Linked DNA regions of Homo sapiens. The protein of the gene in region 4 interacts with the protein of the main gene of each other region in a pairwise test. Each region holds a gene or a part of one and is shown on either strand. Other genes may lie near its edges.

Region 1 (7,804 bases), on a different chromosome or scaffold from region 4:
GGGGGCTGGGAGGAGGCTGGGAGGGGGCTGTGGGGCCAGGGGCACCACTCAGCATTTGGGAGGTGCCCCGCCAAGGGGGTTCAGTCCTGGTCATTTCTGTCCTTCATTCTCAATTAAAACCAGTTCCAAATGAACCACTGCTCAGTGGTAAAACTCCTTCTGGACGTTCCCCTTGGATTGGAACTCCATTTGTTAAATTGCTCAGAGTGGGATTTTCATTCCGGCTGGATTTCCCCAAATATCTTACCGTGACCCAGTTTTCTTTTCCTTCTCTGGAGGTTATTCCACCCTCCCCGCTTTCTGTTGCTGGAGCGGGCTGCCCTTGGCCGGCACAGAGAGGCATCCATGACGGCCGTGCCTCTGCTGTCGCCCACCCCGCTGCACCCCGGAGTCCCTGCACCCCCAGCCACAGACAGGGTCACCTGCTCCCATGCACATGTGGTTCCTTATTCCTTCCCACCCCCACCCCCCAGCCCAGGTGGCAGCCCCTCAGGGAAGGAAAGAGAAACTTCTTTCCCCAGAAGCCTCGCAGACCCCTGGGTGGGGCTTCTCAGAATGTTACAGAGGGGCCCCGGGGCCAGGCTGCGCTTTCTGACGACAGGCTGCTCCTGTCTGGTCAGTCCTGGTGCAGGTCGCTGGGTTGTGGAGTCTGCCTCTGGGGGCTCAGTTCCAGAGCAGGGATAGCGCTGTCCCGTCGCCGGTGTGTACTTCTGCGCGGGAACAGACTTGCGCAGCACGCTGGCCCAGGGACGGATTGAGCGGAGCTGAGCCCTCAAAGAACTTTGGGTATCTCCTGAGAGCCAAGGCATTTGCTGTGGTTTGATGTGTCCCCTCCAAAATTCAGGAGTTGCCTAAGTGACAGTATCAAGAGGTGACTAGGCCGAGGGCTCCTTCCTCGCTCGTACGATTAAGAGCCTTATAAAAGAGGCTGCACCTCCGCCTTCTGCAGTGTGAGGACACGGCACAAAGGCCCTCCCCAGACACCAGTACCAATGCCTGGATCTCGGGCTTCGCAGCCTGCAGAGCTGTGAAAAATCAGGCCGTTCTTTGTAAATCACCCAGTCTCAGGTGCTTTGTTAGGGCAGCAGGGACGGCCCAAGGGCACCTGAAGCAGTTAGAGCTCCACACTGTCCCTGCGGTGCGAAAACAGCAGAACCCCCACAACCTCCCCTCCCCCTCCCCCCCGCCTCCCCCCCCCCCACCCGCCCAGCTTCCTGAGCTGTCAATCGATGTGGTGCTGAAATCCAGTCACTCAGGGAGGAAGGGCAGAGCAAAGGTGGGAGGTTTGCAAGGAAATTTGGGGTGGCAGAAAAGAGGGTGTACCCCGGAGGCCTGAGAGCTGAGTTTGGAGGTGTGGGCCACGCTGGGCCACAGGAAGTGGCAGGTCTGTCACCACCTCACACACAGGGTGAAGGACAGCGAGGGGGAGTGCTGGCAAGACAGGTCTGTGGGTGGGATGGGAGGCTGGATTTGGAGGGAGAAGATGCAGGAAGCTCTGCCAATGAGCTGCCAGAGAACGGAGAGGGCGTGACAGGGCTAAGAAAAGGACGTCTGCACACTGAGGCTCGCTCATGGATGAGTGCTGGGCACAAGAAGGAGGAAGGCAGGGGTGGGGGGCAGCCGGCCCTGCACGCTGGGGAGGCGGGTCGGGTGGTTTGTGCCAGCGCAGGGCATCTGAGTCTGGCATGCACAGGGATGGACTGCGGTGGCTTGACCCCAGGAGTCTGGTCTGGATTTCCGTGGTTCCCAAGATGTGACACTATCCTGGCCCTTGGGACAAAATCCAGCACTCTGGCCTGGCTCCTGCAGACCCACCACCCAGATCAGACCCTTAGGGGAAACCAGGTTAATTCTGGGGCAGCATCTGGAGGAGGAAACATGGAGGAACAGACCTCAGCCCACGGGGTCAGCCGCTAGCACGGGCCTGGGGGCAGGCGCAGGCTGCAGCCCCAGGAAAGTGCAGCCTCTGCACCCCGGAGCAGGGGGGCTCTCAAAGCAGTCCCCGCCACGCCCTGCAGGTGGCGCTCAGGCCCCATGGACTCCGGGGTCTCACCATCAACAAGTGCCCGGGCAGAGTCAGGATGTGGCCCTTCTCACCTTAGTTTTAGGTCAAGTGATGTGATAGGGAGGGGGAACGAGAGGGCAGGCGCCATCGGTGAAGTACCTGGGCTGCCGAGGGGGCGACCAACCCCACACAGGAGGGGCACTGGCTGCTGGTGCTCTACGCAGGCCCCTCTCGGAGACTCAGGCCCTTTTGTGAAGAGCCTCCGCCCTGCCCCGTGTCCAGGAAAGCCACCTGCGAGGACCCTGCCCCATGGAGTGTCCCCTCGTGGTGCTGACGTCCTTGTCTTTGGTGTGTGCTGTATACCCACAGCAAGGTCTGCAGGCTTCACCAGATTCACATTAAATACCTTAGTGAGAGTGTTTTAAAACGGGGACCTTGAGGCAGGGTGTCCCCAAGTCCCAGCCCTGCCAGCTTTGGGGGAAAGGCTCTGGGCCCCATTCCATCTCAGAGAGGCCAAGACCCACATGTTGCAGTCTGCACACAGTAAGCCCCAGGCTGCAGGATTTGACCGAGTCTTTATCGTGGCTTCCGTTACATCTTATTCTAACTCAGGTTTACGGACACAATGCTGGAAAACCAATTCCTGCTCTACCCACGCCTCAACTTGTTAAGAAAAAACAGGATCTAACACCGAGGAATGTCACATCTTCGCCATTCCCACTTCCTTTCTGCCCTAGGCATTCGATATGTGCCACCAGGGGCCATCAGGACTAGGGCTCTGCACCCATGGCAGCAGACAGGTGTGAAGCTCAGAGTCCCTCCTAACAGCCTCCCTCCAGCGTCTTCTTGGCCTGCAAGATAAAGTGTTTTGTCTGAATGGCTTGCTTCCAAGTTAGATACGCCTCAAAAGCAAGCTACCACACCACACGTTGTGTTCTACCAAATACCTTACAGAGAACTTGGGTGCTGGCATATGGTGGGGGCTCGACTGGTTGGAGCCTGGGGCCCCATGGGCAGGTTCTCTGGGTCACTTGTCCACGGGACAAGGGCCTCATGACACTATCACAGAACTCACTGCTGCCCCCTCCTCTGAGCCCCCACGAGATGCCACATTTGGTCTCAAGCTCTCATAGAGGGAAAGCAGGAGCCCCCCCCCTTTTTTTTTTTTTGAGATGCAGTCTCACTTTGTTGCCTAGGCTGGAGTACAGCAGCGTGATCTCGGCTCACTGCAACCTCCACCTCCCAGGTTCAAGTGATCTTCCCACCTCAGCCTCCCAAGTAACTGGGACTACACCACCATGCCTGGCTAATTTTTTTTTTCTTTTTTTTTGTAGAGACGGGGTCTCCATATGTTGCCCAGGCTGGTCTCAAACTTCTAGGCCTAAGCAATCCACCCACCTCAGCCTCCCAAAGCGGTAGGATTACAGGCACGCGCCACCACACCCAGCAAAAAGTGCAACTTCTGATGAGTTGTCCACCCCTGGATCCAAGGCTGCTGGGGCCGGGTAGGGATGAAGGCCGTGGAACTCTTGTTCAAATACCCTTTCTCTGGTCCAAATCTCCGGATTAACAGCTCCCAGTAAACAGAGTCAGCACTGGCATCAAGGCCTACCCAGATACACTGAGGTGGTACCCGGTGCGGCTGACACTTAGGGAACCAGCCTCAGAATGACTTAAAGCCCCACGGGCAAGAAGCCCTATCGTGCCAGTTGTGAGGGTGGCTGGGGGTTCCCCGCAGGACACGTGCTGAAGGAATCCACCACTGCAGGTGCACAGGGGCTGCAAGTGCCAGGGAGGTGAAGACCCGGAAGGTGCTGGGCACTTTCCGGGAGTCCTGTGTTGGGTCAATCCTGGCATGACACCCCCCGGCGGCAGTGCTAACACGAAAGCTTACGCGTTTTACAAGGCGCTTTTTTGCACACATCTCCCATCCTTTCTGAGGTTGGTGCCAGTCCCGCTTTACAAACATGCAGGGACAAGCCCAGGACGGCCGAGGTTTCGCGGGCTCGTCGATGGCTCGGTGATTTTGTCAGCCGGCGTCTAAAGCACGCGGCAGGCGCTCAAACCTTGAACCAACGGGAAAGCAAAGGAAAGCCGGGGCCCGCTGGCTCTTGGAGGGGAAGGGCTGGGAAGGGGGGAAGGGGCCCGCGCCCACCTACCGCAGCGGCGAAGCAGCTCCGCAGGGCCTCGAACTCCCGCGCGCAGAAGTCCTTACTCAGGCGGCCGCCCGGGGCCGTGGAGGCCTGCACGCACCTGCCGTACGCCGCGGCCTGCGGAAAGGACGGGCGTGGGTCGTGGGGTCCCCTGACCCCGTCACCGTCCTCCCTCCCAGCCACCTCCCCGCGCGGCTCCTCCTGCCCCGCAGCACTGGCCCGCCCGCGGCTCCTCACCTCGGCCCCGCAGGCGGCCAGCCGCTCGGGGAAGGCGCGGAGGCGGCTTCGCACGCGGCCCCACACCGCTCCGTTAGCCGACATGAGCGGCTATTCCCAGCCCCCTGGAGGCCGCCATCTTAGGTCCGTCCTCTTCCGGTGTCAAACAGCTTGATAGGTCGGCGCTTCCGCCCATAACCTTTCCTGAACTTCTTAATTGGCCAGGCTTTGCCTGGCCTCGAGCCCCCGCAATTGGCTCTTGTCCTAGTCTGTCTGTGCTCTGGGACTTCGGATTGGCCTAGGCTCCAATTGTTTACGAAGCCAACCTCAGGGCCCGCCCTACCGTGAGGGATTGGCCGGCGGACCCAGACCCGCGCAGTGATTGGAGGGCCCGGGCCTGGCGGAAGCGGGGCAGACCGGGAGGGGACCTGGATCATGGCTGCCGCGCCGCCGCTACGGGACCGCCTGAGCTTTCTACACCGGGTGAGTGAGGGCGGTCCGCCCGGGCCCCGGTCCCACGGCTCCTCTCGAGCGCCGCATTCCCCGGACTCGCCCCGGGCCGGAGCCATTGACCTTGCGTCTCCGCGCCGGGTAGCTGCTCCTGGCCCCTTCGCCCGCGCCGACGCCCCTGAGCTGCCCGCCCGCCGCGCCGTCCCGGGGCCTTCCAAGCCGGGCCTTCCAAGCCGGACCCGCCGAGCGCAAGGGCGATGGGCACAGCCAGACCCTGGGGGAACGAACAGGCCTCGGCCAGCATTCAGTGGCCTCCGACGGGAGGGAAGGAGCGGCGGACCCGGTGGACGTGGAGCCGCTGTGTCCGTGCTGCTGGCGCCCAGGTGGGCTGGCAGCCCGCCGTCCTCCCTGACGGTGGCGTTTCAGAGGACTCCGGTCCTGGAGAGGCACCCCTGGGTTGCAGAGAACACAGACGTCTCGAAGGGACAGAGAAGGACGCACCATTGTAAGCCCCTCTTAGTAAACCCTCTGAGAAGTAGAGGCCGGGGCGAGTTCCCAGGTGTCGTCCTGAGCAAACTGCCCTCTTTTGTCAGCCCTGAGCTTTCCTGGGCTGGACCTCAGAGGGGGCTGGGTGGTCCCAGGGCGCGACCTTGGGCTGCCAGAAGCCACGCTAGGGTTGGTCAAGGCTCTCAGTGCAAGGTTTCGACATAGTCGTTCTGTGCTGCGTTCTGCAGTTGTCAGCTGTCACCTGCAAACCTCAGCAGCTCCCCTTAGGGCGTGGTGGGCAAACAGTGTCAGTGATGCGTGTCCACAGCCTCGGGAAACACTTCAGGTCCACGTTTTCGTATGTTGTCACTAGATCTCGGCCCTTCCGACCGAAAGGCTTCGGCACCTCACGCGGTGGGTCCCATGCTTGTCCTGTTAAATACTCTTGAACTCTATTCTGTCCTGATACTGAATAATGCAAGAATGGGTGGTTCCAGTTTTCATCCCTATAAACCGTACATCTTTGTGCCAGTAAGTAAGCATGAAACAAATAAGTACGTCTGCGCTAAGCGAACGTAAAACACACGACATCAGTCGGTTCTCGGGGAGCGATGGAGCTAGTCACGCTGAGCGGCTGTCACTCTGCCATTCCGGCCTCTGGGGAGGTGGAACGATTCATAGTCCCCTGTGTGGAAAAGGGGCTTGCCTGGGCCTTGTTTGGCTTTGCTAGTCAGTAGGTAGGTACAGGAGAGGTACCTTCAAATAGCCTTACATGCTGGTAAGTGCAGGGAGGCTGGGGGCTGTGTCCCTTCTTAACCCAAGTGGCGCAGCTCCTCCGTGGAGAACCACCATTGATTTGCCTCTTCTCCGAGGCTGTTCATCCCTGACTGTTGAGAGAGGACCCTGCTGCAGCCTCCCTGTGGCCAGTAGCACAGTTCTCATCCCTTCCCAGTCCTCTCTCCGGCCATGTCAACAGTGAGAGGTGGGTCGTTTCCATCCCCTTTGGGGGGCTGCGGATTCACCCCTGTGGGAAATGGCACCTCATCATGGTAGGGGCTCTTGTTCCCTTTCAGCTCCCGATTCTCCTGAAGGGGACGTCCGATGATGATGTCCCGTGTCCGGGCTACCTGTTTGAAGAGATTGCTAGTATCCTTCCTTGATGTCCCCGTGTAGTGGAAAGAGCGGATGGCAGGGTCCCAGAGTGGTGCAAAGGGTTCCTGGGGATTCTGCTGTCCCTAGGGGGATGCACGGCTCCTTTATTATTGTAACCAGGCATGGGTGGGGTCTGAAGGCTGCAATACTGATGACACAGGGGACCCTAGAAGCCCAGGTGCTCCTGATGGCAGAGCCTCCAGTAGGCGCCTCCAGGGAGCGTGAACTGAGAGGCCCCATGGCCTGGTCTCCCTGCGGCCTGGCGCAGCCCTCATCATCTCGCCCTTCCCTAACCCGAGCGTGCCGCAGAAATCTCCCACGAGTCTCCGGGCAGCAGCCAGTGCCTGCTGGAGTACCTCCTGAGCCGCCTGCACAGCAGCTCCGGCCACGGGAAGCTCAAGGTGAGCCCCTGGGTGGTCAAGGGTCAGGCCTGAGGCCCGGCCCACGGTGGTGAGGATGGAGGAGCAGACGAGCGGCCCAGGGTGGCAGGCAGCTCTGTGCCCTTGGGGTGCCCCCGGGCCCTGCCCTGGGTGTCCCGTGTCCGGCCTGCCCAGCACTGCTGACCGCCCCACTCCCCAGGTGCTGAAGATCCTGCTCTATCTGTGCAGCCACGGCTCCTCCTTCTTCCTGCTCATCCTCAAACGCAACTCTGCCTTCATCCAGGAAGCTGCAGGTACAGGGGCCGCGCACGCGCTCAGGAAGAGCCAGGGCTTTGGAGAATGGGGGAGGGTGGCGGATCCTCCAGGTTTGAGAAGGAAGACTTCAGCCAGAGCCCTCACCTGGGCCGGGTCCCGATCAAAGCCCCGCCTTGCTGATCCTGGCCCATCTCTGGCCTCTCCACCTGCTGCCCACCCTCACCCCAGCTGGCCGGCTCGGCCTCCCCTGACGCGCCCTGCCCCCTCCCTCCGCTGGGTCCTCCGTGCCTCCTATGCGTCCCTGGGCCTTTGGCTGCGTCTGTCCCTGCGCTTGCTGCCCCGGGTGCCAGTTTGTTTCTCTGTGTGCCCCACGGGTCTTCCCCCTCCATCCCAGTGCCCACACATAGCAGACTCAGTGCCTGTTCACACATCCTTCCCAGGCTGTGGGTTCCCCTTCTGGGGCTGCTCCTCGGAGCCCAAGACAGAGTGAGGCCATGGGAGGGCGGAGCTGGGAGGCAGGAGAGGCGGGGCCCCGGCCAGTCGGTCTGTCCAGGCAGAAGATGGGTCTGGGGGAGCTGTCCCCGCAGGCTTGGGGGCAGTCCCATGTGCCTCTGCCTAATGAGGACTTGTGGGGGCTTGGCCTGAGATCTTCCATGGGGTGGAGGGAGGCCTGGCTCCAGGTGGTCACTGGGCGCACCATGTCTGGA
Region 2 (7,145 bases), 4.7 Mb from region 4:
AGGGGCATGCCACTGCACCCGGCTGATTTTTGTATTTTTAGTGGACTCAGGGTCTCCCTGTGTTGCCCAGGATAGTTTCAAACTCCTGGGCTTGAGTGATACTCCTGTCTCAGCCTCCCAAAGTGCCAGGATTACAGGCATGAGCCACCGCCACTGGCCAGGGCAGGGGATTCCTGTCTGCTTTGTCCCTTGCTTGGGTGCCCAGCACCTGGCCACACAATAGGTAATCAATAAGGATTTATCGAATGAATGAAGCAAAGGATATAGATGAGCACCTGCATATGGAAAGTCCATTCTTGGCTGTGACACCACCCAGGCTGGACACACAGTAGGCACCCTGGGAAGGTCTTTCTGGGGGTCGAATTTTGGGGGAAGGGAAAGGTGTCTGCTTTATCCAGCCCCTCTTGTCTTTACTTCATAGGAGACCAGCCACTAACTGGGGCGTACACAGTGACCCTGGATGGACGAGGGCCCTCAAGGGTCATCTCCAAACATGACCTGGGCCATTTCATGCTGCGCTGCCTCACCACCGATGAGTACGACGGACACAGCACCTACCCCTCCCACCAGTACCAGTAGCACTCTGTCCCCATCTGGGAGGGTGGCATTCTGGGACATGAGGAGCAAAGGAAGGGGGCAATAAATGTTGAGCCAAGAGCTTCAAATTACTCTAGAGAAACCGACTGTGTGACTCTTCCTCTCTCTGCCTCTGTCTGAGTATTTTGGTGTGTCTGCCTGCCTCTGTGTAAGATTTGCTTGTTATGCATTCATTCATTTGTTCAGTAACAGTTTATTTTTATTTTTTTATTTTTTTGAGACCGAGTCTTGCTCTGTCGCCCAGGCTGGAGTGCAGTGGCGCAATCTGGCTCACTGCAAGCTCCACCTCCCAGGTTCACACCATTCTCCTGCCTCAGCCTCCCCAGTAGCTGGGACTACAGGCGCCCACTACCACACCCAGCTAATTTTTTTGTATTTTTAGTAGAGACAGGGTTTCACCGTGTTAGCCAGGATGGTCTTGATCTCCTGACCTCATGATCCGCCTGCCTCGCCTCCCAAAGTGCTGGGATTACAGGCGTGAGCCACTGCGCCCCGCCCAGTAACAGTTTATTGAGTCTGGCCAGGCATGGTGGCTCATGCTTGGAATCCCAGCACATTGGGAGGCCGAGGCGGGTAGATCACTTGAGGTCAGGAGTTCAAGACCAGCCTGGCGAACATGGTGAAACCCTGTCTCTACTAAAAATACAAAAATTACCCAGGCGTGGTGATGCACACTTGTAATCCCAGCTACTTAGGAGGCTGAGGCAGGAGAATCGCTTGAACCTGGGAGGTGGAGGTTGCAGTGATCCGAGATTGTGCCACTGCACTCCAGCCTGGGTGACAGAGCGAGACTCCATCTCAATAATAATAATAATAATAACTTAGCTGGGCATGGTGGTGTGCACCTATAGTCCCAGATACTCAGGAAGCTGAGGTGGGAGGATGGCTTGAAGCCAGGAGTCCAGGTTGGGCAACATAGTGAGACCCCATCTCTACAAAATAATTTTTAAAAACTTAGCTGGGCATGGTGGTGTGTACCTGTAGTCCCAGATACTCAGGAGGCTGAGGCGGGAGAATGGCTTGAGGCCAGGAGGTCAAGGCCTGGCCACTGCACTCCAGCCTGTAGGACAGATCCAGACCCTGTCTCTGAAAATAAAAAAAAGTTTGTGCTTTATTTTGAGGATTTATGCAAGGAGTGGAGCACCAGAGAAGTAAGGCAGGGGGGACAGTTGGGTGTTTTATGAAGCTTCCTTTGGCTACTCTGTGAAGGTGGAAAGGAAGGGTCCAGGAATGGAGGCTGATAGCCCAGAGGGAGTTGGAGGAGGAACTGTAAGGAGGGGAGGAGAGAGTGGGTGTGAGGAATGCCTGGGAGCCTGCGTGGACAGTTGGTGAGGGGTGGAGGGGAGGCATCAGAAAGAAGCATACGGCTGTAACCCGGGGACAGAGTTACACTAGTGCTTCAGGAGGGAGGCTGAGGCTGCAGTGAGCCAAGGTGCGCCACTGCACTCCAGCATCCACGACGGAGTGGGACCCCGTCTCAAAAACAAAAACCCAAATGCAGTAGGGCTTTCCTGAGTTGTGGACCCTATAGGAGGCGCAGGTTTTGGAGGAGGAAGGGGAAGAATTGCTCCTTCCTAATTATGTCCTTTTTTGGAACCTACTGTCCCTTTCTTTTTTTCCCAGGGACACCTTCCCTAGGCCTGGGTGAGCTAAGACACTTCTCTCTCCCTACCTCCAACCCACACCACCCACCTACCTATTCCCCTCCCATTTATCCTGCAAACATCAGGATGACTTGGTTGACAAACTCCAACCGGCAAGAACTGGTCTGAGGAGGCTTAAACCTCCCTTCCCAGAGGTGGCCTGGAGAAAACTGCCTCCTCCCCTTAGGGAAACTCGTTGTAGGGGCGGAGCATTACGGGTGTGGGCTTTCAGGACACTAGCAGTGTCTTCTTTCTGCCTTATTTTTCTGTCACATTCCTGAGCATTTAGCAAACTTTCACTGGGACCTGCTACGTGTCCAGCCCTGTGCTAGGTGATCCTGCAGACCAAGAGGTGGTTGACAGAGATATCCTTGGTACCTGCCCTCGGCGGGGCGTTCCTCAGTCCATATAGTAACTGACAGTCCAGGACTGGGATGGCGGCACAGGAGGCCATGGAATCCTAGAATGGATCCTAACCCAACCTGGACTGCCAGGGAGGGCTTCGGAGAGGAGGAAACCTTTGAAATGTGTTCTGAGAAGCAGCCTGGGAATTGAGGGTATATTTTGAGGATGAGGAAACAAGTTTAAATATCCAGAGGCGAGAAGATTGCTTGAGGCCAGGAGTTCAAAACCAACCTGGGCAACACAAGAAAACCCCCCTCCCCCCTCCCCCATCTCTCTGTCACCCAGGCTGGAGTGCAGTGGCACGATCTCGCCTTCACTGCAACCTCAACCTCCCAGGTTCAAGCGATTCTCCTGCCTCAGCCTCCCAAGTGGCTGAGATTACAAGCGTGCGCCACCACGCCCAGCTAATTTTTGTATTTTTAGTAGAGACGGGGTTTCACCATTGTTGGCCAGGCTGGTCTCAAACTCCTGACCTCAAGTGATCTGCCCGCCTCCGCCTCCCAAAGTGCTGGGATTACAGGCGTGCGCCACTGCGCCCGGCAAAAAATAATATTAATAATAAAGATCCAGAGGCCTTTTATTGTCATGTTTGCGAACTTATTATGTACCTGGCATTGTTGTAGACACTGGGGTAAAGCAGGGAAGAAAACAAACAGAGAAAATCCTTTCGTTTTCCTGATGGGGTGAATGGGAGCTTGAAGCCATTTTAGAAAAACTGGAAGTGACTCAATGGGGCAGGATCGGAGAGAACCAGGAGAACGCATCAAGCAAGGTCGTGAGGGGCTTTGTGGCAAAAGGAAGGAGTTTGAAGTTTGTATTCGGGGTGGGTAGGAAGCCATGAACAGTAGCAGAGGAGTCATCTTGATGGAGCGGGGAAGGAAAGAGGGTGTCAGAAGACCCAGGTGGGACCACCAGAGGACGTGCTGAGAAAACCTGAGGATTAAGAAGGGGCCGCGCGGTAACGTATAGGGGGCGGGAGGGGCAGCAAGGGGGCGAGGCTACGATCGCCTAGGCAACGCGGGCCGCGCCACTCTATTGGCTGGTCTTCCGCTACGTCATCCCCCGCGCCCCAGCGTCCTCCCTCGGAACCCCGGGGGCGCGGCCTCCTCCGGTTGCTCGGCCCCGCCCGCCTGCACAGCGACTTGGGGAGGGGCATGCCAGCCCCTCTGGCTCCACGGTGGAGTCCAGGCCTACCATAAAGGAACCGCAGGGAGCAATGGTGACGATCTTGGAGCGAGGACTGTAGCTGAGTGGAAGGAAGCGGTTCTGTTGGACCGGCCGCCCTCCACCCCGGAGTCGCTGCCCCGCCCCCTGCCAGTTGCACTTCTTTAAATGGCCCGGGGCGCTAGGGAGGGGTGGGCGGATCCGGCGTCTCGGGGCACGGGCGGATGGCTCCGCCCAGCCAATCGACGCCCCGCGGCGGGCGGGACTCCAGCCAATCGCGGCTCGCGGCTCGGCTCCGGGGCGGGGCTGGTGGGCCAGAGGCCAGACGGAGAGGCCCCGCCGAGGTGAGCGAGGCTCCAACCGGTCACTGGTGGGTCCTGGCACTGGCGGGTCGCAACGCTGTGGGCGTTCCAGGAGGTGGTCGTGGCGAACCTGGCAGCTGCGGTGAGGAGTGGTCGCCTGGCTTGGGAATTTACCTTAGGCTGGGGGAGAGAGAAGCGCGCCCCGGGGACTTGCGGAGGCGGGGTCTGGGTGGGACCGGGGGAGGGGGCCTCAGATTCAGGGTGATGATAGGGAGGGTCTGGGGACCTGAGACTGAGTTCAAGACCCAGGAGGGGAGGCGAGGTTGTTGGGGCAGTATTTTCAAGTGGAGGGAGTTTGAAGCTGGGACGTTGGGCTTTTGGAGAAGCGAGAGAACAGAGGGGAGGAACTTTTGAGACAGGGAACCTGGAGATTCGATTCCACTTGGGTCTTCCGGACGGGTTGAATTCGGGGCTTTATCGTGTTCTGGAAAAGGTGTGAGAGGTACGGAGCTGAGATTCTGAGTATTTGGAGAAGCGAGAGAACTAGGGTCAAGGATTCTTGGGACTCCAAGACGCACTGGCGGGGGAAGGAGGTTGCCGGGAAGAGTTCAATGTTCGGGTCTTGGAGCCGGACAGCGAGTTTGGAGGTGAAGTCCAGGGGCGTTTGAAAGTCAGGAGACTAGGAGAAGTGGGAGGAAGTATCAGAATTAGGATACGTAGTCTCCCGAACTAGATCGGAGCATTGTCGTCTTTGAGCGATGTGTTCGGATCTGGGTCTCTGGATCCAAGGGCAGTTTGGAAGGAGAATCGCGGACTTTCAAGGAACAGAGGGACCGGGAGAAAGCAAATTTAGAGCCGGAGTCTGGGGTGGGGGAGGGGTGTTCCGGGCCTGGAGCTCAGACTCGCGGCCCCGGAGGCAATGGAGGGCGGGGCTCGGCAGGCGCCGGCAGCTGGACGTCCAGGTTCCCTTCCCCCACCCGCCTGTGCCCCTGTGCGCATGCCCTGAGGGAGAGCGGGGTGAGGGGGGTGGCTCGTCCCCTGGACGGGCGGAGCCCTCTGGGGATTGTAGTGCGTGCTCGACGTCAATTCGTGTACCTGGCGGCTGTTGGCCCCCGTTTCCCAGAAGCCCCTGGGCCAAATTGGGGCGTTCCTGGATGCTCTGTAAGGACCCATGGGGGGGCGGGGCCTTACAGTGTCGCGGTCTGATTGAGTGGGACCTCCGAGGGGGCGGGGCTTGGTCTGAGCTGAGTTCTAGCAAGTTTTCCTATGGGGCGCGCTTTGGGGGAATCTGAAAGCGTGGGCAGAGGGAATGAGACAGGCCCCTTTCCTACTCTTGGGAGCGCTCCCAGTCGGTTAAGGAAGAGGACATAGAAATATCCCGACTGTTGAAGAAGAATCTCAACATAGGTTCCCCAACAGGGCTCCAGGAGATTTCGAATATAGTAGGCACTCAGTAAATCTGTTGAGCGAATAACTGGCAATTAACTCTTGATCGAGGCCGGGTGTGGTGGTAATCCCAGCTACTCAGGAAGCTGAGGCGGGAGGATCGCTTGAGCCCAGGACTTCGAGACTGCAGTGAGCTGTGATAGCGCTGCTGCACTCAGCCCTGGGCGACAGAGCGAGACCCTGTCTCTAACAAAAAACAAACACAACTCTTGTTCATTAAGCACTTCCGGTGTGGTGGGCCCTATAGATACGTGGCATCTCCTTGACAGAGGTGGTGAGAAGTATTTTTTTACAGTCCCTATTTTACAGATGAGGAAACTGAGGCCCTGAGAATTGACTCATTCAGATCACTTCCCATGATCACGCAGCTGAGCAGTTTCCAATACAGAATTCAGATTTGGGGTTCCCTACTTCCAATCCAGGTCTCTGTGCTCCACACTTGTCTTTCGTGCTCCATGTTTGAAGAAATTAATATTGTGGAAGAACAGTTTTAAGGCTTAGAGGAACTTGAGTTAGGATCCGTACTTGGCAGATGAGGAAATTGATTCTCATGGATGTAAATTCACTGTTTGAGGCCACAACAGGCAAGTAAGTGAGATTTAAATCTAGCTGTACGTAACGCCAGATCTTATTTTCTTAATCGTATATGTACTCACCTTCTTAAACTTGTAGGATTCAGACAGCCTTCATTTTATACATCAGTAAACTGAGATTCCGATGATTAAAAATCACTAACAACTCAATAGGCCTGAGAAAGTGGGATATGAGCCAGCACTACGGTGTCTGGTGTCTGACCTTCCCCTATGCGCCTCTTCTCTCTACAGGGCATCATGGTGGGAGGCTTGAAGAGGAAACACTCTGATTTGGAAGAGGAGGAGGAGAGGTGGGAGTGGAGTCCAGCAGGCCTTCAGAGCTACCAGCAAGCCCTGCTCCGCATCTCCCTAGACAAAGTCCAGCGCAGCCTGGGCCCCCGAGCACCCAGCCTCCGCAGGCATGTCCTCATCCATAACACCCTCCAACAGCTGCAGGCTGCACTTCGCCTGGCTCCCGCCCCTGCCCTGCCCCCCGAGCCCCTCTTCCTGGGCGAGGAGGATTTCTCCCTGTCAGCCACCATTGGCTCTATCCTCAGGGAGCTGGACACCTCCATGGATGGGACTGAGCCCCCTCAGAATCCAGTGACTCCCCTTGGCCTCCAGAATGAAGTGCCACCCCAGCCTGATCCAGTCTTCTTAGAAGCTCTGAGCTCCCGGTACTTGGGGGACTCTGGCCTGGATGACTTCTTTCTGGACATTGACACATCTGCGGTAGAAAAGGAGCCTGCACGGGCCCCACCAGAGCCTCCTCACAACCTCTTCTGTGCCCCAGGTTCTTGGGAGTGGAATGAACTGGATCACATCATGGAAATCATTCTGGGGTCCTAAAACTGTGATAGAGGGGATCGATCCTTCCTCATGTCATCTTCGGTGGCCTGGATCCCTGAATGCAACTCTGGGTGTGTGTTTTTGTGGGGGCTCGAAGCAGTGACTATGGCCTCCTTTGTTCCCATTTCAGGGTTCCACAAACTGTCTTGCATGTGTGTGTGTGTCTG
Region 3 (6,139 bases), on a different chromosome or scaffold from region 4:
ACCAGCCAAATGAAGACAAATATATGGTAGGGTCCAGGAGTGTCCCAGGCACAGATGTGTGCCCTCTGCTCATAGAAACAGGATACCAATGCACATCCCTCAGCACATCCATGTGTTCACCAGCCAGGAAGCTGACCAAAACCTGTGTCAGAAGTTTTTATATCTAGAGTTTTACCATAGATATAATTGGTTAAAATCATCGGCATGTGGCTGAACTCAATCTCTAGCCCCTCTCCCCTCCCTGGGGATCAAGCTGGTATCATCCAGCTCAAAGTCCCAGCCCTGTAACTATATGGTTGGTCATTCTGGCATGGTCAGCCTCCATCCTCAGTCAAATCTTACAGCAAACTCAGGTGTGGTCTGAGATCAAATTCAATATAAAATTAGGTGCAGCCTAAGGTCAAATCTCAACATAAATTCAGGTGTAGTTTCAGGGACCTGCCACGAAAAACAAAGATACTCCTATTACTTGGGAAATTCCAAGGATTTAGAGTCTCCTTCTCAGGAACTGAAGACAAAGGCCAAATTCTTTATTATACAATGAAGTAGGGGAGGATTTATATGAAAAATCTTACTAATTCTGGAAGCTGGAAATGACCTGTGTCCCAGGAGATAGGAAGTAGACCATGTGTTCCTCATTAAGGTGGTCTCAAGACCTGCTCTGCTCCCAACTTGGTTCACTTTCCCAGCCCTTACCAAAGGGGCACCCAGTCAACCATTCAGCAGACATAAAAAATGAGTTGGATACCAGGTTCCCATCTGCCCCATCACCTGTTTCTCACGGTGTCCAGAGTATCATATAAGACCCCTAACAGACACTTAACAGAGACCCTGCAGGTTTGGTAAGGCAATTGGAGATCTGCTACATCCAGCCAGGCAGCAGCACTTTGGGAGGCCAAGACAGGTGGATTACTTGAAGTCAGGAGTTTGAGACCAGCCTGGCCAACATGGTGAAACACTGTCTTTAATAAAAATACAAAAATTAGCCAGGCGTGGTGGCACATGCCTGTAATTCCAGCTATACAGGAGGCTGAGGCAGGAGAATCACTTGAACCGGGAAAGCAGATGTTGCAGTGAACTGAGACCATGCCACTGCACTCCAGCCTGGGCAACAGCATGAGACTCCATCTCAAAAAAAAAAAAAAAAGAGAGATCTACTACATCCTTCCCCCAGCTGCCCAAGAGAACCCCTGGCCAACAATGAAGAGGGAAGAGGGGGGAAATCTAAATGACTACCTTCCACCTCTAGCATGCAAGAGGGGGAAAAAAGTAACAAGACAAAAGGCTTTAGGAGCTCTTAATGCTTAGAGTGAAAAAAAATCACAGGCTAGTTTTTTCATAGTCATTGATCCATCTCTGACATGGCAAGAATTTTCCCTTCACCCTGGCCGCAGGTGGAAGCCCAGACTCTCTCCTAGCAAGGTATCCAGAATGGAGAGGGGCTACCCTTGTAGTGCAGTGCTGTGAATCCTCAACCCAGAGGCAAGAAAACAAGAAGACTATGTAATGAGCACCCACATGCCAAGCCCATGCAAGGCACTTTCAAGTGTGATCTCAGTTAATCCTCACACCAACCCCATAAGGTAGGCATCCCTGTTTTACAGATGAGGAGCCTGAGGCATAGAGAGGTTTATTAATTTGTCAATCAAAAAGTTCCAAGTTTCAAAGCTGGGATGAAAAGCCAGGTCTTCTGACTTGCACTCTGTCACACTGGATTTTTCCTCTGATCCAGCTGCAGCCTCCCATAAGAAGTTCACTCTTAATTTCATGTCCCATGCTTTGTCTTGGTCCCTGTGAGGAAAGGGGTCAGCTAAAGGTAACTGTTCTATAAGGATGGGTAGGTATCCTGGCAAGATATTTCCTCTGAAATAGTAAACGTGACCTTAGAAGTTACTGTCTAGGGCACTCTCAGCTGAATAAAGTCTCCCAAGGAAACACTGAGGTAGAGCAGTCTGCAAGTGCAAAAGCACACCTTCTGCAGATTCCCTACAAAGTGGGGTCCCCTGAAAGGGGCAATGTTAAAAGGTAAAGAAAGCAGGAATCAGGAGGGCAAACAGGAGTAGTGTCAAAACTGCCATGGCAGGTTGGAAGACAGTTCAACAGATCAAAGAATACGTTTCCCAGCGACCAGGGTGCACAGAAGGACCTTTTGCTCCAGTCCAGGAGATGTGTTGTCATCTGCTTGGCCAAGAATGACTTCGAGGTCTTGAATGTGTCCCATGCAAGGCCCCAAGGGCACTCATTTCAACAGCAGTGGCAGCAGCCCCAGCTCATTCAATCTTTCCTTGGCCACTGCCTCCCAGCCCTTGTTGGCCTGTGGGTTACGGGGAGAGGGATGCAGGAGCCCTTCCACCTGGACCTCTGGCATCAGGCCTGCCAGAGCCCGTCGTGCCCGCTGCTCTGCCAGTCGCCCAACTCCCACCACCAGCCGCACCCCCAGCAGCTGCACCTGCCGGCAGAGGGCTGCATCACAGATCCCAAGAAGCTGTTCTCGCTGCTTGGCAGGCAGCTCAGCAGGAGTAAGGTTGCGCCCGCTGGGAGCCAGGAAAAGCAGAGGGCATAGATTGTGGACAAAACAGTGATGGAAGAAGACCTCAGGCTGTCCACAGAGGTTCCGGAAAAAGCCCCAGAATCGGGCACCACTCACTTCTGACTGTGGGCACTCCAGTCCCAGCACTGGTCGTTTAGGATGCTCTTGGGGAGGGGTCAGCACAGGCCCCACAATGCCCAACCAGTCCCGGACCATGCTTACTTCCCCAAAGGGCACCTGTGAGGAAGGAGAGAGACATGAAAGGCTTCAAACTGGAGACCTGAGGCCCGGGCTCTGGACCAACTGACTTCTTTATACCTTACATGAGGATCCAGCCTGCACCCCCTACCCCTACCTTCACCCAAAGGCCTGAGACAAGGATTCTTGGCCCTATGGTTTGAGCCTGTCTGTCTTTTTCCAGTTCTTCATTGTGAACCGTGGTCCAGAAGAATTTGTTTCCCTCTAGCCCAACTAGCCTTTGGGACTAAGTACAGGGACTACATTGAGATATCTAGCCCTACACAGGGTTTGATGGTTAGTACTGGGGACAGACAGATGGTCTGAGACAGAAAGGCAGCCAGGGTTAAAGGAGGCACAAGGATGGGCTGACCACTGCTGTCTGGATGCCCTCTCAGCCCCAAGCCTCAGGCTGTCATTTCCATCGATCATCATTGATCACCTTTCATCACCCAGTTGGGGTCAATAAAAGCGATTGAGCCTTCTGCCCTGAAGCCTCTTCCCCTCCCCCACCTGCCAAGCACCCCCACTGGGGGCAGTCACTCATCCTGAGCCCTGAAAGAAAAGCGGGCAGGCACTGGAGCCAGGCTCTGTTTTGAACCTCGCCTTAGCTAGGAAACAGAACCCAGGTTCCCAGAACGCCCTGCATCTCTTACATACCCACCCCTGTCAACCAGTCTCTTCTGAGGACCCAGCAGTCCTAGTCCCTCTTCTGACCCCAACCACACTTCAGGGACAGGGGAGATCCAGTAAAGTAAGGATGGGGCTGGCGGAAGGAAGGGCTCTCAGAGGCAATTACTGGCCAGCTCACAGGGAAAACGAAACTACCATTAATGTGCTTGGTTAATTACGGGCAGAGACGCTGGGAGAGGGCCTCGGACCACAGGAGCCAGTATATGTGTTGAGACAGAATGGGGCGGGAGGACCTACACATGTCTACAGCCATGCACATGCTCCTTCTCCACAGCACACCCAGCCAAGCATCCACCTAGAACCCCCCACTCCACCCACTGGGGAAGCCAAACCCTTTACCCCAGTCTGGGCCATGCCAAAAGGTCCAGGGTTCATGCCCAGGAAGAGTACTTCCTTGGGGCCCTGGCAGTAGCGAGTCACGTAGTTGCGATGTGGCTCCCATGCATACTCCACGGGATTGTAGATGATGCCCACAGGCTCCGAAAACTGCAGCTGGCTCAGCTCAGCATTGAGCCGAAGCTCCTCCTCCAGGAAGCTCTCAGCCAAGCTTCCAGGGCAGGGCTGGGGCTCCATGAGGGCACCTGCAGGCTCATGGATGGACCCCAGCAGGAAAGCCTGGGGCATATGTCCATGCCGCTGTCACCTGGGAAAAGAGATGGACAGAAGCCCCATCAACCCTCAGCCACAGAGTAGGAGGGATCCATGCTTGCCAGGGCCCCCACTACCATTTCCTGGGCTCAGAAGGGACCCTAAGAGACCATGTCAGTCATCTACCAACCACCAAGTAGGACTGAACTCATCTCAGTTCTTGGTAATGAAGGGCCCTTTCCCTCCCCACTTCCATTATCTGTCCTCTTCACATGGCACCTGGTGAGGATAAGCCATAGCCACCAAACATCTCCCACTCCAAATCTCCTTTCCATCAGGCATAGGTCACTAGTTCCTGGGCTATGCCGAGCACATAGTAGGTTTTCAATAAACATTTACTGGTGGCATCCTTTCAGCACCTTTAAGGTCATCCTAAAAAAGAAAAGCCCAGCCAGAATGGACTGTTCTGGAAAGCACGGCGCTGAAGAATGAAATGCAAGTGCACAGCCACAGCCCAGAGACCTGGGAAGGCTAATTACAATAGCTTCCAGGTGGTGAGCGACTGCTCTGCACCAGGTACACCTCATTGATCCTCACAACAATCCCATGAGGTGGGTATTACTGCTCCCCTGTTATAAGTGAGGACACTGAGGCTTAGCAAGATTAAGCAACTTGCCCAAGGTCTTACAGTTAGTAAGTAATAAAGCTGGATTTGGTTGAGCCCAATCTCTCTGGCTCAAGGCTATGCTTTAACCACCCACGCCATCTTGCCTTAGATGGTTTGATCAGCCACCCTGCTAATTCTACAACCCCCTAACCCCAGCCTAGCTTCTTTCCCACACTCAGGAATACCGAGTAGGATGATTACAGACTCCTCATAGAATCTTACGAGCTACACAACCATGGCCAGAGCCTCAGGTTTCCACCTTCAAATACAAAGAATAATAATATCCACTTAATAATGTTGACATAAGGAAGGCCAGGCATGGTGGCTCATGCCTGTAATCCCAGCACTTTGGGAGGCCAAGGCGGCTGAATCACCTTAGGTCAGGCGTTCAAAACTGGCCTGGCCAACATGGCGAAACCCCGTCTCTACTAAAAATTACAAAAATTAGCTGGGCATGCTGGGCGTGGTGGCTCAAGCCTGTAATCCCAGCACTTTAGGAGGCTGAGGTGGGCAGATCACCTGAGGTCGGGAGTTCGAGACCAGCCTGACCAAAATGGAGAAACTCCCACCTCTACTAAAAATACAAATTAGTCAGGCATGGTGGTACGTGCCTGTAATCCCGGCTACTCTGGAGGCTGAGGCAGAATCATTTGAACCTGAAAGGTGGAGGTTGCGGTGAGCCAAGATCGTGCCATTGCACTCCAGCACGGGCAACAACAGTGAAACTCTCTCTCAAAAAAAAAAAATTAGCTGGGCGTTGTGGTGGGCACCTGTAATCCCAGCTACTCGGGAGGCTGAGGCAGGGAGAACTGCCTGAACCCGGGAGGCTGAGGTTGCAGTGAGCCAAGATCGTGCCACTGCACTCAAGCCTGGGCAAAAGAGCAAGACTCCATCTCAAAAAAAAATAAAATAAAAAATAAATAAATAAATAAATAAATAAATAAATAAATAAATAAATTTGCCGGGCGCAACAGCTCATGCCTGTAATCCCAGTACTTTGGGAGGCTGAGGCAGGTGGATCACGAGGTCAGGAGTTCAAGATCAACCTGGCCAACATGGTGAAACCCCGTCTCAACTAAAAATACAAAAATTAGCTGGGCATGGTGGCACGTGCCTGTAATTCCAGCTACATGGGAGGCTGAGGCAGGAGAATTGCTTGAACCAGGACCTGGGAGGCAGAGGTTGCAGTGAGCCGAGATTGTGCCACTGCACTCCAGCCTGGGCTACAGAGGGAGACTGTCTCAAAACAAACAAACAGACGTAAGGATGGAATGAGATGTTATGTTTAGGTGAAGGGAGAAAAGAAATGGGAGAGGAAGAAGAAAGGGAAGAGAGAAGGGAGGTGGGAGGAAGGAGAAGGGAGGGGGCAGGAACATGACAGCAAGCTTTGTAAACTGCAAAGGCCATTGCTTCACTCCACTCCC
Region 4 (7,939 bases):
CCACTGCACTCCAGCCTGGGGGACAGACCGAGACTCTGTCTCAAAAAAAAAAAAAAAAATTAGCCGGGTGTGGTGTCGGGCACCTGTGGTTCCAGCTACTCGGGAGGCTGAGGCAGGAGAATGGCATGAACCCGGGAGGCGGAGCTTGCAGTGAGCCGAGATCGCGCCACTGCACTCCAGCCTGGGCGACAGAGCGAGACTCCGTCTCAAAAAAAAAAAAAAAATCAAATACATCCTTATTGAGTATGATGAAGCCTACCAAGAAAAAAGTGCGAGAGGGAGACCAGGAGAATGTATAAAGGAGATCCAAATTTGACTGGGGGCTCAGGGAAGGCATCCCTGAGGAAGGGATTGTTACGCTAAGATCTGAAGGATTAATAGTTGTTAGCATGGTGAAGATGTGACAGGTGGAATGGGCTGGGAGAAGGGAGCAGGCTCATTTCACAGGAGAGCGGAAAGCACTGGACCAGGGCAGAGGAGGGGCCACGTGAGAAAGGTATTTAGACTGACTGGGCAGAGCCTGGGGGAGGGCTGCAGGTGAGGGAGACAAGGCAGGTGTTGGGACTCCAGGGTTTCTCGTTTGAAAGCCAGGAAGGATATGGAGTGTTGGGACATTATTACCCACCCCCAGGCTGATGCATACTCCCTGGGCCATGCTGTATCTTCCTCATAGCAGTTACACAATGTACCAGACACTTTACTCATTTACTTGTCTGTCTCCTCCAATGATGACAAAGCTCCAAGAGTCCAAAAATTTTTGATGGTTCACTGAGTAATCCCCATGTTTTTTTAGAGACAGGGTCTCACTCTATCACCCAGGCTGGAGTGCAGTGGCATGATCATAGCTCACTGCAGCCTTGAACTCCTGGGCCCAGGCAATCCTCCCACCTCAGCCTCCCGAGTTCTTGGTAGTATAGGCATGTGTCATCACGCCCAGCTAATTTTAAAAATTTCTTGGCCAGGCACAGTGGCTCACACCTGTAATCCCAGCACTTTGGAAGCCCGAGGCGGGCAGATCACGAGGTCAGATCAAAACCATCCTGGCTAACATGGTGAAACCCCATCTCTACTAAAAATACAAAAAAAAAAAACAAAATTAGCCGGGTGTGGTGGCAGGCACCTGTAGTCCCAACTACTCAGGAGGCTGCGGCGGGAGAATTGCGTGAACCCAGGAGGCGGAGCTTGCAGTGAGCCAAGATTGCGCCACTGCACTCCAGCCTGGGCGACAGAGCAAGACTCTGTCTCAAAAATAAATAAATAAATAAAAATAAAAATTTCTTTTAGAGGTGAGGTCTTGCTATGTTGCCCAGGCTAGTCTTGAACGGTGGGCCTCAAGTGATCCTCCCACCTCTGCTTCCTGAGTACCTGGGATTACAGGTGCAAGTCGCCACATCTGGCTAAATGCATTTTTGATTTATGATGTTTTAAACTTATGACAGGTTTGTATCTGTATATCGAGATGGTAACAAGCAACATCCTCCCTGGGGCTTCTAACCCTGGAAGGAAACCAGAGCCAATAAAAATGTCTTACATGGCCAGGTGCGGTGGCTCACGCCTGTAATCCCAGCACTTTGGGAGGCCGAGGCGGGTGGATCACAAGGTCAGGAGTTCGACACCAGCCTGGCCAAAATGGTGAAACCCCGTATCTACTAAAAAAAAAAAAAAATTGGCCGGGTGCAGTGGCTCACGCCTGTAATCCTAGCACTTTGGGAGGCCAAGATGGGCAGATCACGAGGTCAGAAGATGGAGACCATCCTGGCTAACAGTGAAAACCCGTCTCTACTAAAAAAAATAATAATAATACAAAAAATTAGCCAGGTGTGGTGGCGCCAGCAGCGCTTGTGGTCCCAGCTACTTGGGAGGCTGAGAAGTGGGATGATCGCTTGAGCCCAGGAGGTCGAGGCAGCAGTGAGCCATGACTGCATCACTGCACTCCAGCCAGCCTGGGCGACCGAGCAGGATGCGCGTGCGCGCACACACACACACACACACACACACACAGTCCCGGGCCAGTCACGGTAGTTCACGCCTGTAATCCTAGCACTTTGGGAGGCCCAGGCGGGAGAATCACTTGAGCCTAGGGGTTCAAGACCAGCCTAGGCAACATGGCAAAACCCCATTATCTCTTTTTTTTTTTTCCTGAGACAAGTCTCGCTCTGTCGCCTAGGCTGGAGTGCAATGGCACAATCTTGGCTCACTGCAACCTCCGCCTCCCAGGTTCAAGCCATTCTCCTGTCTCAGCCTCCCGAGTAGCTGGGATTACAGGTACCCGCCATCATGCTCGGCTAATTTTTGTAGACACGGGGTTTCACCATGGCCAGGCTGGTCTTGAACTCCTGACCTCAGGTGATCCGACGGCCTCGGCCTCCCAAAGTGCTGGGAGCTACAGCGCCCAGCCGGCATATTTCATTTTATTATTTGACTCCCCTAGTGAAATGTAAGCTTCACAAGGAAGGGATTCTGTCTTAGAACGGTGCCTGGAATACAACAGACGCTCAATAAGTGGGTGTCGAATAAATAAATGTCCCACGCTGAGGCTTAGGTACGTTATGATACTCATTTTACAAAAGAGAAAACTAGGACACACAAAGATTAAGTCATTGGGTCGCACACCTAGTAAGTGGGGGAGGCGAGTCCTCAGCACACGCCCAATAACAGCATTATTATGATTACTAGCCGCTTACTCAGGCCTTGAGCTAAGTGCTTTACCCTGAATCATCGCGCTCAATTTAGCAATAACCCCGAGCCGGCACCGTCGCGAACGCCACTTTCCAAAGGAGGAAGCCAGGGCCAGACGTTGCCCTGCAAGGCCGGGGCTGGGCCGGGTTCGAACCCGGACGCCTGACGCGCCCTCCGCTCTCCCAGAGGCGTTACCTTGGTGGCCCCCGCTTCCTCCCCACGGAGCCCGGCGCTCACCCCCGGGCCGGGGTCGGGGTCGTGAGCCCACAGCTCAGCCACCATCTCCGTGTGAAGAAACTCAAACAACACAGTATCCGCCATGCCCCCTCCTCGCACGCCTAAAGATGCGCCCAGCGCTTCCAGCTCTCATTGGCCAGGCTTGGTAAGCCACGCCTCTTGCGTCATGGCGCGAGCCCTCCTACTCCGGCTTCCATTGGTGTTTTAGACTAGCCCCGCCTCCCCGCCCCGGACTCAGGTGGTGTGCGCGTGAGCCTGGGACACTAGGGGGCGGGCCTACGCCTTCTCTGGCCACATGTGGCAACATCTTCTGCTCTTACTGCCGTCCCTTCCCTATTTCCGGGTTCTCGAGCATTCCTATTGGCCAAATTACTGGTTACACGTGACATACTCGGCTTTTAAAATCCCTATTGGTCCACTCCAGACTTTCCTCGTCGCACAACCTGGAAGAGCCGGCCCAGCTGTTTCTCTATTGGCGGTTCCTCCATTCATGTGACTCTTCTGCACGCTCACTCAAAGCTGATGCTGAGAACTTGCTTCCTGATTGGTAGCCGGGCGAATCCACGTGACTTGGCCGCTAATGCCCGCCCAACCCGCTCCCCTATTGGTTGAAATCACAGCCCTTCAGCTGCCACGGTGAGAACGCAGCACTCGGGTTAGGAAGCGGATCTCGCAAGCTCCGAGCGTCAGCTGCCGGGTACGGTCTTTGGCGTTAGCGCTTCTCCCATCCCATGAGTGCCCCCAGCAGAGTCCAGTCGGACTGTCATCCTTTCTGCGACTCTGGCGCTGGTCCCGAGCAGCTCACGGGCCCGTGTGCTTCCGGGTCTGAGATTGGCATGGTGGACCAGGTGGAGGGTGTGGCCTCTACTAGGAGGCAAATTCGTAAAGACCTCGGCTTGGGACTCCGGGAACTCGGGCCCCAGATCCTTGTTCGAGCTGGTCTTCAGTTTCCCCATCTGTACGCTGAAGAGCCTGGGGTCCAGTAACCCCCATCATCACCCAGTTTACAGAAGAGGAAACTGAGGCCCAGACGGGGAGCAGCTGACACCAAGTCGTTAAGAGAATCAGCGAAGGGGCTGGGAATCCAGGACCTGCGCCTTTTACCCACCGCGGCGCCGGTCTCACGTGCAGTCCCTTCGCTCTTCTCCCCTAGTTCGGTGCCATGGCGTCCCAGGGTCGTCGGCGGAGGCCCCTGCGGAGGCCGGAGACGGTGGTGCCGGGGGAGGCGACCGAGACGGATTCCGAGCGCTCTGCGTCCTCGTCGGAGGAGGAGGAGCTGTACCTGGGTCCTTCGGGCCCGACGCGCGGCCGCCCCACGGGGCTGCGGGTGGCTGGGGAAGCCGCGGAGACCGACTCGGAGCCGGAGCCGGAGCCGGAACCGACGGCCGCGCCGAGGGACCTGCCTCCACTCGTGGTGCAGCGGGAATCGGCGGAGGAGGCCTGGGGCACGGAGGAGGCCCCGGCGCCCGCCCCCGCGCGCTCGCTCCTGCAACTTCGGCTGGCGGAGAGCCAGGCGCGGCTGGACCACGACGTGGCGGCCGCCGTGAGCGGTGTCTACCGCCGTGCAGGCCGCGACGTGGCCGCCCTGGCTAGTAGGCTGGCGGCAGCCCAGGCGGCGGGGCTGGCGGCGGCCCACAGCGTGCGCCTGGCGCGCGGGGACCTTTGTGCGCTGGCCGAGCGTCTGGACATCGTGGCTGGCTGCCGCCTGCTGCCGGACATCCGCGGCGTGCCAGGGACCGAGCCTGAGAAAGACCCGGGGCCGCGGGCCTAGCCATGATTCTACTTCCCAACCTGACTGCAATTTGGGGGTAGGCCTTGCTGCCTCTGGGACCTGACTCTGTCTCCTGTGTCTCTTATCACCCCCCACCCCCGCTCCCATCTTGGTGTCACCCATGGGGGCTAATCCGGTCCCCTTGGATAATGCTTTATATTGGATATAGTTCAACCCCTACTGCGGAGACCAGGGCCCCACTATCCTTAGATCTGGTTCCTCTCCCGATCCTGACCCTGCCGCCTGGTTCTGAGCCTTCCCCTGGGGCTTGGCTCCAGCCTTTGTTACATAGTTGCTCCTTAATCTGTTTCCACCCTGGGGGCTCACCAATTTTTTTTTTTTTTTTTTTTTTTTGGAGACAGGGTGTTTATCTGTCACCCAGGCTAGAGTGCAGTGGCGGGATTACTGCTCACTGCAACCTCGACCTCCTGGGCTCAAGTGATCCTCCCAGCTCAGCCTTCAAGAGTAGCTGGGACTGCAGACCTGCACCACCACGTCCAGCTGCCCGGTTAATTTTTTTCTGTCGGTTTGAAGAGGGGAGAAGGTCTCACTATGTTGCCCAGGCTTGTCTCAAACTCCCGGGCTCAAGCAATCCTCCCACTGTGGCGTCCCAAAGTGCTGGGGTTACAGGTGTGAGCCACCACACACTGGGCTCTGCTCTGCCTTTCTGAGTTTGGTTTCTGCTTATGGTGGGGAGCTTGTTCCCGTTCTTCCCACAAGAACCCAGGATGTGGCACAGCTTCCCTGCCGTCTTCCTTCACTCAGTTGGCTACGCCTCCCATCCTAGCTCCACTTCCAGAACTGCCTTCACCCTAGGCTGGGTCCTTGTTTTGTTTTTAGAGACAGGGTCTCACTGTGTCTCCCAGGCTGGAGTACAGTGGCGTGATCTCGGCTCACTGCCACCTCCACCTCCCGAGTTCAAGCGATTCTCCTGCCTCAGCCTCCCGAGTAGCTAGGATTACAGGCATGCACCACCACGCCTGGCTACTTTTTATATTTTTAGTAGAGATGAGGTTTCACCTTGTTGGCCAGGCTGGTCTCGAACTCCTGGCCTCAGGTGATCCACCCGCCTCACCTCCTAAAATGCTGGGATTACAGGCGTGGGCCACTGCGCCTAGCCAGCTGGGTCCTTGTTCTGCTGCCCAAGCTTGGCCCTGGTTCCGTGTGCTGGTTCTACTTTTTGTTCTCCCATCTGCCTCCTGCCTCCTCCCCTTTGAGCTTAGCCCCGCCCTCTCAGCCTGATTTCTGTTTCCCAAGTCCAGCAGTGTCGTGGGATAGGTTTTGCTTTCTTTTACTGTCTCCATCCTACTTACACCTCCCTGATCCTGGGGTCTGGGGACTCCCCATGGTTTCCTTCCTTCTGCAGGCCCAAAATGATGGCCCCTCTTAACCCAAGGCAGGGGATCTTCCTCCCAACTCCCTGGACCAAGGTGGCATTTCCTGCACACCCCTCCAGGCCAAGATGATGCTCGCTCTCAACTCTGTAGGCCAAGGTGGCGTCTCCTCTTGACTCTCCAGACCTAAAGTGACACCCTTCAGGCACTTCGGGCCCAATTCAGCCCAGTCCTGGTGCTTTCAGCGCCAGATGACAGCACTTTGCAGATAAGAACGATATGATGTGTGGATTTCACTACATTTGGCTCCTGGATGCTATAAAAGGACTTGGATTTCTGACTTGGCTCAGGGACTGGGGTTAGCAGTCTCTTTCTGCTCCTTTTCACCTGTGTTTTCTTCCGATCCCAGCTCTGGTCCCTCAGCCGCATTCATATTTACTCTCCTCTCCCAGCCTGATATCCCTGTCCCTCATCTCAACCCGAAGCCAAGATCTGAGCCCCCAAGATGGAGAATGGGGAGGAGCTTTTTATGGCGGACTGATTAAAACTCTTAAGCATTTACCCTTATGGTTAGTTCCTTTTGTTTCCCTATCTAAGCTAAGGGTGAGTTGGTTGATTTCTCTGAGAATGGGGGTCCCGAGACCTCCATGCCTGGCTTATGGAAGGTGAAGCTGTAGTTGGGAAATCAGGGGCCCTAGATTTTTGCCCTGGTTCTGTATTTACTCGTATTTTATTAATTCAACACACACGTTTTGGGTACCTGACCTGTGCTGCGGCTAGGGGTATAGCACCCAGTCCCTGCCCTCACAGAGGTCGCAGTCCAGTGGGAGAAACAGTAATAAGATGTTCTCATAGATAGTTCTAGTAATCATAATTTATAGTTTAATTTTTAAAAATAGAGATGATAGCCTGGCCAACATGGTGAAACCCTGTAGTTATTAAAAATACAAAAATTTTGGGCGATGTATCACGCCTGTAATCCTAGCACTTTGGGAGGCCGAGGCACGTGCTAGTAATTCCAGCTACTCAGGGAGCTGGGGCATGAGAATCGCTTGAACCCTGGAGGCAGAGGTTGAAGTGACCCAAGATCGTGCCACTGCACTCCAGCCCGAGCGACAGAGCAGGACTCTGTCTCAAAAATAAATAGGCCAGGCGCAGTTACGCATGTCTTTAATCCCAGCACTTTGGGAGATCGAGGTAGGCAGATCACCTGAGGTCAGGAGTTCTAGACCAGCCTGGCCAACATGGTGAAACTCTATCTCCACTAAAAATACATTAGCCAGGCGTGGTGGCACATGCCTGTAATCCCAGCTACTCGGGAGGCTGAGGCAGGAGAATCGCTTGAGCCCAGGAGGTGGAGGTTACAGTGAGCTGAGATCATGCCACTGCACTCCATCCTGGGTGAGAGTGAGACTCCATCTCAAAAATAAATAAAAAATAATTAATTTTAAAAAATAAAATAGAGACGAGCTCTCACAATGTTGCCCAAGTTGGTCTTGAACTTCTGAGCTCAAGGGATTCTCCTGTCTTGACCTCCCAAAGGGCTAGGATTACAGGCATGAGCCACTGCACCCAGCCATAATTTATAATTTAGATACAATTTTCTTGGCACCATGATTAGAGCCATGAAGAAGTAAAGGAGCTTTATGAAGGTGGAGCGGGATCCACCTGACCTAATCTGGGCGGGAGAGAGGAAGTGATGAGTGGTGCTGGAGCTGAGCCCGGAAGGTGGAAGTAGGTGAAATGGGAGTAGGGTGAAGAGTTGCAGACAGGGAGAACAGCATATGCGAGGGCCCTGAGGCAGAAGGGAAAGGGACCATAACCTGTTTAACAGAAGAAGATGATTTCTGCTCTCCACCTAGAATGGAGAAGTGTGGGGTGGTTGTGGGGCAGGGGGGTGCTGAGTGCAGTACCAGAA

What was found.
Region 1: the proteins of TRAPPC6A (region 4) and TEPSIN interact in binary tests that used the Homo sapiens proteins (3 or more experiments, as listed by UniProt).
Region 2: the proteins of TRAPPC6A (region 4) and SERTAD3 interact in binary tests that used the Homo sapiens proteins (3 or more experiments, as listed by UniProt).
Region 3: the proteins of TRAPPC6A (region 4) and SMUG1 interact in binary tests that used the Homo sapiens proteins (3 or more experiments, as listed by UniProt).

What each region holds. Positions count from the first base shown.
Region 1 is NC_000017.11:81,236,039-81,243,842, reverse strand, and holds the start of TEPSIN (AP-4 complex accessory subunit tepsin), read left to right. Parts: upstream 1-4,787; 5' UTR 4,788-4,809; coding exon 4,810-4,857; coding exon of another isoform or gene 4,858-5,329; exon of another isoform or gene 5,330-5,683; coding exon of another isoform or gene 5,684-5,841; intron 5,842-6,182; exon of another isoform or gene 6,183-6,356; coding exon of another isoform or gene 6,357-6,383; coding exon 6,384-6,456; intron 6,457-6,765; coding exon of another isoform or gene 6,766-6,771; coding exon 6,772-6,863; intron 6,864-7,041; coding exon 7,042-7,135; intron 7,136-7,804. Other genes in the region: NDUFAF8 (NADH dehydrogenase [ubiquinone] 1 alpha subcomplex assembly factor 8), read right to left, coding at 2,690-2,856, 4,161-4,275, 4,396-4,479. UniProt on the Homo sapiens protein: Associates with the adapter-like complex 4 (AP-4) and may therefore play a role in vesicular trafficking of proteins at the trans-Golgi network.
Region 2 is NC_000019.10:40,441,323-40,448,467, reverse strand, and holds the start of SERTAD3 (SERTA domain-containing protein 3), read left to right. Parts: upstream 1-4,132; 5' UTR 4,133-4,253; intron 4,254-4,390; exon of another isoform or gene 4,391-4,613; intron 4,614-5,852; exon of another isoform or gene 5,853-5,913; coding exon of another isoform or gene 5,914-5,979; exon of another isoform or gene 5,980-6,145; intron 6,146-6,381; coding exon of another isoform or gene 6,382-6,387; coding exon 6,388-6,978; 3' UTR 6,979-7,145. Other genes in the region: BLVRB (flavin reductase (NADPH)), read left to right, coding at 422-579.
Region 3 is NC_000012.12:54,179,857-54,185,995, forward strand, and holds the end of SMUG1 (single-strand selective monofunctional uracil DNA glycosylase), read right to left. Parts: intron 4,104-6,139; 5' UTR 4,085-4,103; coding exon 3,800-4,084; intron 2,768-3,799; coding exon 2,240-2,767; 3' UTR 1,792-2,239; coding exon of another isoform or gene 1,663-1,791; 3' UTR 510-1,662; downstream 1-509.
Region 4 is NC_000019.10:45,175,219-45,183,157, forward strand, and holds the start of TRAPPC6A (trafficking protein particle complex subunit 6A), read right to left. Parts: upstream 3,020-7,939; 5' UTR 3,001-3,019; coding exon 2,917-3,000; coding exon of another isoform or gene 2,875-2,916; intron 1-2,874. Other genes in the region: BLOC1S3 (biogenesis of lysosome-related organelles complex 1 subunit 3), read left to right, coding at 4,079-4,687. UniProt on the Homo sapiens protein: May play a role in vesicular transport during the biogenesis of melanosomes.